Linked DNA regions of Homo sapiens. The protein of the gene in region 2 binds, or shares a complex with, the protein of the main gene of each other region. Each region holds a gene or a part of one and is shown on either strand. Other genes may lie near its edges. A codon is read from its position in the direction of its gene.

What was found.
Region 1: the proteins of ATOX1 (region 2) and ATP7A are in contact, whole or in part, in an NMR structure (PDB 2K1R), measured with the Homo sapiens proteins. Residues at the interface, in NP_004036.1 of Homo sapiens: Thr11 (codon at 3,880), Cys12 (codon at 3,883), Gly13 (codon at 3,886), Gly14 (codon at 3,889), Cys15 (codon at 3,892), Ala18 (codon at 3,901), Arg21 (codon at 3,910), Val22 (codon at 3,913), Lys25 (codon at 3,922), Lys57, Thr58, Gly59, Lys60; in NP_000043.4 of Homo sapiens: Cys19, Asn20, Ser21, Cys22, Trp24, Thr25, Gln29, Asp67, Asp68, Met69, Gly70, Phe71, Asp72.

The regions. Positions count from the first base shown.
Region 1 is NC_000023.11:78,046,636-78,051,131, reverse strand, and holds the end of ATP7A (copper-transporting ATPase 1), read right to left. Parts: 3' UTR 737-4,496; downstream 1-736. UniProt on the Homo sapiens protein: ATP-driven copper (Cu(+)) ion pump that plays an important role in intracellular copper ion homeostasis.
Region 2 is NC_000005.10:151,748,342-151,755,634, reverse strand, and holds part of ATOX1 (copper transport protein ATOX1), read left to right. Parts: intron 1-1,512; exon of another isoform or gene 1,513-1,962; intron 1,963-2,325; exon of another isoform or gene 2,326-2,555; intron 2,556-3,855; coding exon 3,856-3,931; intron 3,932-7,293. UniProt on the Homo sapiens protein: Binds and deliver cytosolic copper to the copper ATPase proteins. May be important in cellular antioxidant defense.

The DNA.
Region 1 (4,496 bases), on a different chromosome or scaffold from region 2:
CTGGCCCTAGTCAAATTTGTGAAAGATGCAGCTCTATTTCCTTTTAATTTGAGCAGGGACTTTGATGCCTTAATCTAGCAAGGATTCTCCAACAGAAAGGTTTTTGTTTTGTTTTATTGATCTGGAAGGTTTTGAAGGTTCACCTGGGAGGTAGCCATCAGTACACATCCTTCTCTGAGGTCAGGATACCAATAAGAAAGGGAGGCTGGCAAGCTGAGTGGATGCCTTGGGGATTTTACTCTTATTTTGCCATTTCCCATCCTATCTCCTCACCCTGAGTAACCCCAAGGATTTGGGGGGAAATGAAAATTAGTTTTTCCTCACAAGTTTACAATGGTTTCCTTAACTCAAAAAGGAGTGTTCGGGTATGGGAATGTATCTTGGGTGGGAACTTCAAACACTCTGTATAGGGCTCCCCAATGGCAAGAAAATCTCTTTTCTCTGTTTAGCTCATTTGGAGTAGACATTCTATCAAGAATGTATTAGAGACTACAAAGGAAAGCAGAACAATAATATTCCTTCCTTTATTTCTCATCCTCACTGAATGATATGGCAGGTGTAGTGGAGTCCGAAGGAAAATAGATTTCTTCCCTCCCATCCTAACCGAAAGTGTAGTGATGCCTATAATCCACCTCCATCATAGATGAAAAGTTGAAAAAAATAAAAATATAACAAAGGTAGTTCAGAACTGCTGATAGAGGGGGTTGGATGATTTAACAAAAGAGACAGACAAAAATATTTTACAACACTATAATTATAAAGTTGAAGGCACATCCTTGGCAGAAATATGATCAATTACATGCTTATGAAAAACAAACTACTGAATATCTTAACTACAGTAGATGGATATTGCACAACATCGTCCACTGCTGTTTTCGGTACCAAACAATCAATGTTCAACAACGTTTAGCTAAACATTTCTTTAACTAAAAACGTAAGGTTGAGACGCCTGGTTTTGGCTACAAAAGGCATTTGTTATCAACACTGTGAAAGAAGCTCTTTTAACTGAAGAACAAGAACTCATGCTTTGTGCTCTATCTGGTTACTCATACCAGATGGAGGGACTGCAGAAAGTTAGTGTAAAAATAGGTAATAATTTGGCATGAATCTATATTTTTTCTATTTTGTAAAATAATACTTAAAAATGTAGAAAAGAAACAAAACAAACAAAAACCCAAAAGGAGTGATTCCAGGAATGTCTTTATTCTTTTTAAAATAACCAGTAACCAGATGCCTCACCCAGAGAAAAAAACAAAATGGAGTAAAATAAATATCAAGAAAAATCATTTTAAAGCATGATCCATAAGTAATAGAAAAAATTCTCTTAACATACATTTTTGATTTTAAGCTGTATACAGAAAAGATATGCGCACTTAAAGTTTTGGAAACATCTTGTCTACAGTGCTATTTTAAGCATTCTATACATATGAATAAAGAATACTTTTTAAAAAATTAAAGCACAATATAAAATTACTTGTTCACAAGGCATCAAATTTGACATTCTAAAATGTTGATACTAAACTAGGAAAAATAACGTTTCTATTTTCACAAATGACACACCATACATCTTGAGACTACAATACTACTACTCTAGCTGTGTTTTAATCTTTGAAATTCAAAAGGCATCTTTGGATATTTAAGTTTAAGGTGCCACATAGGTGAGTCTGAACCGGCACTGGATATTAAAGTATCCTTGTTATCTTCAGACTAAGGGCATGGTTGCTGAGTGAATACAGAAGAGTGATAAATGAAATATAAATAGAGAACTTCAAATATTCAAATATCAAATTCAAATATAAATCCATTTCCCTTCAGTATGGTAATATGTATGTATGTGTATGTACATATATATGTGTGTATATATATATGTATGTGAATACACAGAAATACACATTTATAAAATTTCTCATTACTAACTCCTGACTTAAAGCTAGCTACTAACTGAAAGCAGTATTTTTGATTCCCTCCATAATCACCTCTTTCTCCTGTAAATACAGCTTCTCTTTGAAGCTAATGAAAGTTCAAGATTGCAAAAAAGACTTGTGGTAGAGGATTCAAATGTGGCTACATATTACTTAAAGCAGGACTTTTTCTAATTAGCATGTTTTCTGTTCTTGTTGTAAGAGCTGAAATTATCTCTTTGATTATTTCAATACTACAAGCTGCTATTCCCACTGTCCCACAATATGAATACAAGACCAAGAGGATGACTCCAAGGTACACATAATAATGGAAGAATAACTGGCTGTGTTCAACTGCTTGAGGTGGGTGGGAGGGAGAAGGAGGCATGCTTCTTTTTTCAACATTTACCCTATCAGCTCTGTCTTCTAGAAGAAACAAGTTGTATTATAAGATGGGCCACTGGAATTAAAATAATAAATAATAAAACTCAAACTGAAAGCATGGAGGATGGCATAGGCATTGGTCTAAAAAAAGGGCCTAGATATGCAAACCCATTGATATTTCAGTGAAATGGGTTTGCCTTTCTAGATTAATAGCACCTTCATCAAAAGCTTCAGTTCTCTCTTTAAGACAGCTGAGACAGAAATTAGATCTTTTCTAAATCTGAAAGACAGCATGGAATAAGGTTGTAAACTTTGCATGTGTATATATGAAAGGATAAAAGAGAAAAGGGGTAGGAAAGGAAGAACTCCATCCCCTACCCCCACCTGATTTTAAGACTCTGCTCTAGAAAAATGATTTTTTTGTATTTATTACTGACCTCAAGGGGAGAAAAGAACTAACATTTACCGAGTACAAATCCTATGTGCCAGATGTTGGGTTAGCAGCAGCTTTGCTTCTGGTAATGGGAACAAAATGTTAGGAATTTACTTATGAGTCCTCTTCATTTACATATTCTGCATATGAAATCCATCTTGCAACTAACAAAGAAATTTAAATAGTCTTACAAGTACCAGATCTCTGACCAGTGTATTAGCTACCAGGCACTCACAAGGGAATTTCTAAATCCATTTGGCAATGGGAACAAGCTCCTAAATTTGCCAACCACACTAACTAGGCAAGTTCAAATGTTTTAAACTAGAGAAGAGTATATATTTAGCTAAAAAGCGTCATAACCTAGGGAAATTTTAGTTTCTGTATTATGATTTTACTGTATTTTTTGGTAAATGCAGCTTTGTGTAATAGCATTATTTTAAAGTCTTTTTGAGAGGTTATCTGAAACACTAAAAGATAAATAAAATCTATTAAATTATATATACTAGCAAAGTGATTATACTCAATTCAAAAAATACAAATTTAGGCTGGGCATGGAGGCTCACACCTGTAATCCCAGCACTTTGGGAGGCCAAGGCGGGTGGATCACCTGAGGTTAGGAGTTTAAGACCAGGCTAGCCAACATGGCGAAACCCCGTCTCTACTGAAAAATATGAAAATTAGCCGGGTGTGGTGGCAGGCACCTGTAATCCTAGCTACTCAGGAGGCTGAGGCAGGGAGAATTCCTTGAATCCGGTAGGCAGAGGTTGCAGTGAGCCAAGATGGTGCCACTGCACTCCAGCCTGGGCTGCAAAACAAGACTCTGTCTCAACAACAACAACAACAACAACAACAACAACAAACAAATTTAGTGAATCCAGGTAATTTTATATGACCTGTATATGTATAATAGTTTTAATCTTTGAAAATTTTTTGAGCAGAAAAGGCTCATAATGTTAAGTTTCCAGACTGAGATCAGCAGACTACATGAAGAATAACTTAGAGTCCAACTTGGCAGGAGTGAACTGAAACTGAGCACAGAGCTAGGAAACTTGAAGGAATAATTTGATATACTTTTTACAACAGTGGAAAGATGGGAGGCAGGGAACCCTACAGACCTTTAAGGTCTTTTGAGCTACAAAATTTAAAAAGGAGCAAAATATTAGAACAGTTGTCAGTTATTTTTAATCAATGAAAAACCACCTAAACTTGGTTAGCTCGAAAGAAAATAACAAAAGAAGACATATTGGAGCATCTAAAAAAGCACCTGCAAGGACAAGGATGCAGGGAGAATGGGGGAAAGAAAGCCTGCAATAAATAAGGCACATCTATTTTTAAACAGTTTCAACTGTTTCCCTTCTAAAACTAGATGTTTTATACACAGTGCTTTGAAAGTCATTGCTCCCCAGTGGGGCAGGGATACAGGCTTGAGAGTATCTTCAATATTTTGAGTTCAAAAGCATGAATATCTTCATGCTCTCAAATCTTCAAATTTTTCATTTTCTTCTTCTTGGGCCTTTTTTTTTTTGGTCAAATAAAAAAAAAATCACTTTAGCAGCAGTTCAGCAATCTCTAATTGTAGGGCTTGTTGTAAACCTCACTGCTCTACCTTATCTGTTGTTAGTGAAAACAAAAATATACTGGAAATTCAGTTTAAATAAAGCTAGGTTCAGAGCTGATGCCTTGAAAAAGATATTTTTGCCAACAGATAAACGCAACTCAAATAGAATCCCTAATATAAGAGCATGAGAAAAATCCTTCTACAATATTTTGAAAAGTGA
Region 2 (7,293 bases):
GGGATGGGACCTACTCCCTGTAGTCAGCGACAGAAAGTTTCAGGTATCTGTTGACTTTAGGTCCTTGGGCAGCAAAAAACTGTGCTCCCTAAAAATGTGTTTCTAGTTTCAGAGCTTCTGCTGAGAGTCAGGGTTATGAGGGCTGGCGGTGTACTTTGCTTTTCCAGAACCAGCAAGATTTCCCTGGAGCGAAGAAAGCCTAGGTTCATATTCCATACTCAGTAGTTATTTGCCACATGACTGCAAGCTACCTAGTGAACTCTTGGGAACTTCACTTTCCTCCTGAGTGAAATAAGATAAATAGCTCTCTTTCCAGGCTCAGTGAGGACTAACTTAGATACTGTACAAAGATAATTTGACATGTAATAGACAATCAGTAGATTTAGCTCTTATGTTGATCTTGCAAACCCTTCAAAGCTTTGGCTCAGTATATAAGTACAAACCATAGATGAATTGATTTTCTGCTGGTTATCCTAGAGCAAGACTCAGCAAACTTTTTTTTTTACACGGCACCGATAGTAAACATTTTAGTCTTCACAAACCATAGGGTCTCTGGTACAACTACTCAACTCTGCCATTCTAGTGCAAAAGTAAACAAATGAGTTTGGCTGTAGTTTTTTGTTTTTGTGTTTCTTTTTTTTTTTTTTTTTTTTTGGACGGTGTCTCGCTCTCTTGCCAGGCTGGAGTGCAATGGCATGGTCTTGGCTCACTGCAACCTCCGCCTCCTGGGTCAAGCGATTCTCCTGCCTCAGCCTCTTGAGTAGCTGGGACTACAGGCGCATGCCACCACTACCAGCTAATTTTTGTATTTTTAGTAGAGATGGGGTTTCACCATGTTGGCCAGAATGGTCTCGATCTCTTGACCTCGTGATCCTCCCGCCTCAGCCTCCCAAAAATGCTGGGATTACAGGCATGAGCCACCACACCTGGCCCGATTTGGGCTATGTTTTAACAAAACTCTTTGTAAAACAGGTAGTTTGTAGTGTGCCAATCCATGTTCCAGAGCATCATCATTTTTTTTTCCAAAACAATTTTTTTCTTTTAAATTAAATGGAGCCATGATCTCACTGTATTGCCCAGGCTAGTCTCAAACTCCTGGGTTTAAGTGATTTTCCTGCCTCAGCCTCCTAAGTAGCTGGGATTACAGGCACCTGCCACCATGCCTGGCTAATTTTTTTTCTATTTTTAGTAGAGAAACAGGTTTTGCCATGTTGGCCAGACTGGTCTCAAACTTGTGACCTCAGGTGATCTACCTGCCTCAGCCTCCCAAAGTGTTGAGATTATAGGCATGAGCCACATTGCCCAGCCTAAAAAAACTTTTTAATAGAGGAGAGCATCATCTCAGACTGTAATGTGGGGAGGAATGACTTGGGTGTCTTGTTAAAATGAGGATTCTGATTCCGGACTTCTGGGAAGGGACCTGAGATTCTGCATTTCTGACAGGCTCTCAGGTGATGCTCATATTGTTGGGCTGAGGACCACATTTTAAAGACAAGATTTTGTAATACTTACTACAAATCCTTCTTTCCAGAATCTGTTATTGTTGCTGTCTGTGAATAGTCAGGAAACAAGATGAAAAAATCAGAGATGTTTAGAAGAAAGGAAAGACTGACCATTTTCTTTAAGACAGATTTTGCAGATTTGGCCTTAATAAAAGGAGTGGTTTACTAGTCACAAAGGTCAAACAGTCTGCACTGGAAAATCGAGCTGCTTAATTCTTGGTCTTCGTTTCCTCTGTAGAGCACAGTGACAATCCAGACTCAGCGGTGTTTAGAGACTTGGAAAGAGTTTGAGAAGCCACTTAGCCACTTTATTTTCAGGTTTGTAGTTTTGCCTCCCGTTCTCTCCCCAGTAGGTTAAAAATGGGGAGTGGCAGGGCCCGCTCCACATCCACAGAGTCAGTTGAGGCAGGTGTCTGGGAGCTGCACTTTCCACAAGGTCCCCAGATTCTTCCTATGCACACTAAAGTTGAAAAAAATTGAGTTAGCTAATACCCTTTTGGTATAGATTAGGGAACTGGAGCCCTTCTGGAGCAGAGATTTTGCCTGTGGTTTTCTAGCAAGATATATCACTACACCCAGGATTCCAACTGAGGTAATAGACTTCAAATATTTTGAAGTGCTCCATGAAAAATGTAGCCATTGATTTTTGAAGGGAAACAGGAGAGACAAATGGAAGAAATTAATAATCCAATAGCTAACCTTTTACCCAACGGAACCTAGTACTAGGCTCTAATTTCCTTAATGTGTTAGTTATCTATTGCTCCTTAGTAATTATCCCAAAACTTTGTAGTATAAAACAACAAATATATTTATAGTAACTCACACAGTTTCTGAGAGTCAGGAATTTGGGAACAGCTTGGCCTAGTGGCTCCAGCTCAGAGGCTCTCATAAAGCTGCAGTGAGATGTTGGCTGGAGCTGCATTCATCTGAAGGCTTGACTGGAGCTGGAGAATCCACTTCCAACATGTCTCACTCACATGCTTGTTAGCTCGAGGGTTCAATCTCTCACTTTGTGGACCTCTCCTTGTGGTTGCTGGAATTTCTTTGTAATTTAGTAGCTGACTTCCTCTAGTGCAAGTGACCCCAGAAATGGAGCAAGACAGAAGTCACAGTGTCCTTTATGACATTGTGATAGCTTCAGAAGCCACATAACCTCACTTCAAGCCATATTCTATAAGACACACAGACCAACCCGAGACATGTGGAATGGGATTACTCAAGGGCATAAATACCAGAGGCAGAGATCATTGAGGCCATCTTGGATGCTGGCTAACCGTACTTAAAATCCTGTGTTCATCCCATTCACAAATCTAGAGAGGGACTCTTACCCTCAATTTTCAGATGTGGAAACTAAGGCACAGAGAAGTAACATATTGATGATCATGCAACTAGTAGTGCCAGAGCTGGTATCTGAAGCCATATTTATCTGATTTCAGATGGTCTCATTTCCAGAGATTTTAAAATAAAGTATTGGTATAAGTAATCCTTGTGTGAAAGCAAAGCAAAAGATCCAGAAGTTCAAACCAGCCATGTCAATTATCCATTGACTCAAAAATAAGTTTTAAGCACCTACTCTGTCCAGGCACTGTTCCAAGTATTAGGAATCCAGTAGTGAACTGAACAAAACCTCTGTCTTCTGGGAGCTTACCTTCAGACCCTTGATCTGTTAGATATCCTAGAGACTGTAGAATGTAGAGCTTACATGAAGACTAGGAGCCGGGGATCCCTTCCTGCCTGGCCTCCAACCCACTGGGGAACCCAGGCAATCCTTTCTTTCCCTGGACCCAGATGCTGCCTCTGAGAATGCGGCCCTTGGATGAAAGCAGAATCACCTGGGGTAATGAGTAGACATAACAGATTCCCCAGCCCAGACCTGCTGACCAGAACCTGTAGTTTTTGCAAGCTGTAGGTGACTCTAGTGCAGAAAATAATTTTGTGGTTCATAAGTGGGCCCACCAGATCAGCATTGCTCAGAGTATGGGGGCCCATCCCTGTCAGAGTTACTGGTGGCCCTGAGACAAAGCTCATAGCTCAAGAATCAGTGTTTTGAAGGTAGGACTGGGAAAAAGCATTTTAAACTAGATCTCCAGGTGATTCTATTTACTATGTGCCAGACACTGCTAAAGGATTTATAGGGATGATTCCATTGAATACAACTTGTGAGGTAGAAACTCTTAGCTACTCTATAGTTGAAGAGACGGGCTCAGAAACAGGCTTCTGATGAGTCTGATGCCAACCAGGTCCTGCCCAGTCTCTCTGTCTTCTGTCTTGACCCTGAGTGGGCCTGTCTGCTGGCACTGTGTGGGGGTCACTCTACAGGGCTCGGGTCATGGTCCCCCTGTGTTTGTTTCAGAAGCACGAGTTCTCTGTGGACATGACCTGTGGAGGCTGTGCTGAAGCTGTCTCTCGGGTCCTCAATAAGCTTGGAGGTGAGTGAGTGGCCCTGAGTTGGGTGCACTTATGCCATGTTCAGATGCATGCAGATGTTGCAGGAGAGACTTAGGGTTAAGCTGATCATAACAGTAAAACTAAAATATATTGAGTACTTAGCACGTGCCAACTACTCTTGTTATTTTCTTAGTGGCTTATGTGAATCACATCATTTAATCCTCACCACGGCCATTTCAGATAGTTTTTTTTTTACTAGCTCCATGTTAAACAGGAGACAGCTGAAGTTCAGAAACATTAAATAACTTATCTGGGATCACATGGTCAGTAAATGGCAGAGCTGGGATTTAGCCAAATTAACTAGTACTGCCAGGAGTAGCTCTGGAGCCATGGCAGTACTAGTTCATATGTTGGTCATCTCCAGTGTGTACTGCATGACACATCTGAGTGTCATTTTCTATTGAATTTTTTTTTTTTTTTTTTTTTTTGAGACAGAGTTTCGCTCTTCTTGCTCAGCCTGGAGTGCAATGGTGCAATCTCGGCTTGTTGCAACCTCCGCCTCCCAGGTTCAAGCAATTCTCTTGCCTCAGCCTTCCAAGTAGCTGGGATTACAGGCATGCACCACCACGCCTGGCTCATTTTGTATTTTCAGTACAGACGGGGTTTCTCCATGTTGGTCAGGCTGGTCTCGAACCCCTGACCTCAGGTGATCTGCCCGCCTCGGCCTCCCAAAGTGCTGGGATTACAGGCGCGAGCCACCCTACGCAGCCTCTATTAAGGTTTTTTAAATGGGGCTGGGCACGGTGGCTCACACCTGTGATCCCAGCATTTCGGAAGGCTGAGGCGGGCAGATTGCCTGAGCTCAGGAGTTCCCGAGACCAGCCTGGGCAACATGGTAAAATGCCATCTCTACAAAAAATACCAAAAAAATTAGCCAGGCATGGTGTTACATGCCTGTACTCACAGCTAATTTAGGGGGCTGAGGTGGGAAGATCGCTTGAGCCTGGGAGGTTAAGGCCACAGTGAGCCTAGATCGTGCCACTGCACTGCAGTGGGGGCAACAGAGCAAGACCCTGTCTCCAAAAAAAAAAAAAAAAAAAGAAAGAAAAAAAGGAAAGATTTAAAAAAAGGTAAAAATTTTTAAAATTTTGTCTTTTTCTGTTTCTTTACTTCAAAAAAAAAAATTTAAATTAATTTTGAATCACTCACATGCAGATTTTTTTTTTTTTTTTTTTGAGATGAAGTCTCACTCTGTTTGTTGCCCAGGCTGGAGTGCAGTGGCATGATCTCAGCTCATTGCAGCCTCTGCCTCCTGGGTTCAGGCGATTTCCGGTGAATTTTTGTACTTTTCATAGATATGGATTTCACCATGTTGGCCAGGCTGGTCTTGAACTCTTGACCTCAAGTAATCCGCCTGCTTTGGTCTCCCAAAGTGCTAGGGTTACAGGCATGAGCCACCGCACCTGGCCACATGCAGATATTCTTAAAGCACCTCTTTTGAACAATCAGTCTCATCCAGCCTTGTCATTTTACAGCTGGGGAAACTGAGGCCCAGAGAGGACTGGGATCTGGTCCTGGGACTCAGTGAGGTAATAACTGAGTTGTGATCAGAGTTTTGGCAATGCCAGTGCTCAGTCAGCCTTCTAAGATTTTTTCTTTTCTTTTTCTTCCACATGAACTATCACACAATCTTCTAAAATTTTCTTTTTTAAAACCCTAAATAATAATGACATTAAGTTTTCAAATGGCTTCCACATGGACGTGATCTCATTAGCAGTCCTCTGAGCTGTACTTTCCATCTTTGGAATGGGGATGTCGATGCCAGTGTCCAGGAGGTTAAGTGACTTGCCCGTAGTCCCGCAGCAAGTCAGTGGCTGGCCTCTAGCCCTGTAAACTGGGATCTTAATCTGAAAGAAACTGAAACAGTGGAAAGAACCTAGCTGCTGACTTGTCATGTGACTGTGGGCCCTTCTTTCTCGGGCCTGGGTTTCCCCAGCTGTGGTATGGGAATGTATATCTTGTATGTCTGTATCAGCTTTTGCTGTTGATGCTTTTTTTTTTCTTTTTCTTTTTTTTTTTTTTTGGAGATGGAGTTTGCTCTTTCACCCAGGCTAGAGTGGAGTGAAGTGGCATGATCTCTGCTCACTGCAACCTGCTCCACTCTGCCCCGGGTTCAAGCGATTCTCCTGCCTCAGCCTCCCGAGTAGCTGGGATTATAGGTGCCCGCCACCACGCCTGGCTAATTTTTTTTTTTTTTCTGAGGCAGAATTTCGCTCTTGTTGCCCAGGCTAGAGTGCAATGGCGTGATCTCAGCCCACCGCAACCTCCACCTCCCAGGTTCAAGCGATTCTCCTGCCTCAGCCTCCTGAGTATCTGGGATTACAGGCTCAGGCCACCATGCCCGGCTAATTTTGTATTTTTAGTAGAGACGGGGTTTCTCTATCTTGGCCAGGCTGGTCTCAAACTCCTGACCTTAGGTGACCTGCCCACCTTGGTCCCCCAAAGTGCTGGGATTACAGGCGTGAGCCACCGTGCCCAGCCTGTTGATGCTTTAAAAATGAAACTGTACAGGAGCTCCTCAAATACAAAGCAGCAGGCTCTGGATGAAGTGGGGATGGGCCTAATTTCGTTTGACAGCTCAAAGACATCTACCCATCCCAGGAACTTCATCCAGGCTGGAGTGCAGTGGCGCGGTCTTGGCTCACTGCAGCCTCAACTTCCCAGGCTCAAGCCATCCTCCCACCTCAGCCTCCTGAGTAGCTGGGACTACAGGACCACACCCGGCTATTTTTTTGTTTTTGTTTTTGTTTTTTGTAGAGACAGGGTCTTGCTTTGTTATGCAGGCTGGGAAACCATATGTTTTGTTTGTTTGTTTGTTTGTTTTGAGAGGGAGTCTCACTCTGTCTCCCAGGCTGGAGTGCAGTGGCATGATCTTGGCTCACTGCAACCTCTGCCTCCCAGGTTCAAGTGATTCTCCTGCCCCAGCCTCCCGAGAAGCTGGGATTACAGGCACATGCCACACACTGAGCTAATTTTTGTATTTTTAGTAGAGATGGGGTTTCACCACGTTAGCCAGGCTGGTCTTGAACTTCTGACCTCAAGTGATCCACTCGCCTCAGCCTCCCAAAGTGCTGGGATTACAGACATGAGCCACCACGCCTGGCCAACCATATGATTTTTAAGGCCCCTTGCTGGAAGATCTGCCTTTAAGCTTCGGCAGGTTTCTGCCCATCTTTTCCTACTGTCCCTGCTTGGGTGGCCTCTTGAGAAGGGTCAGGAGGGTTTTTTGAGTTGCTTATGGCCCTAAAAGAACAGTGGTAGGGCTGAGGAATCACAGACTGATGGCATCCTTGAGCTGGAAAGGCCACAGGAGCTGGCCAGCCCTGACTCCTTCATGTACAGA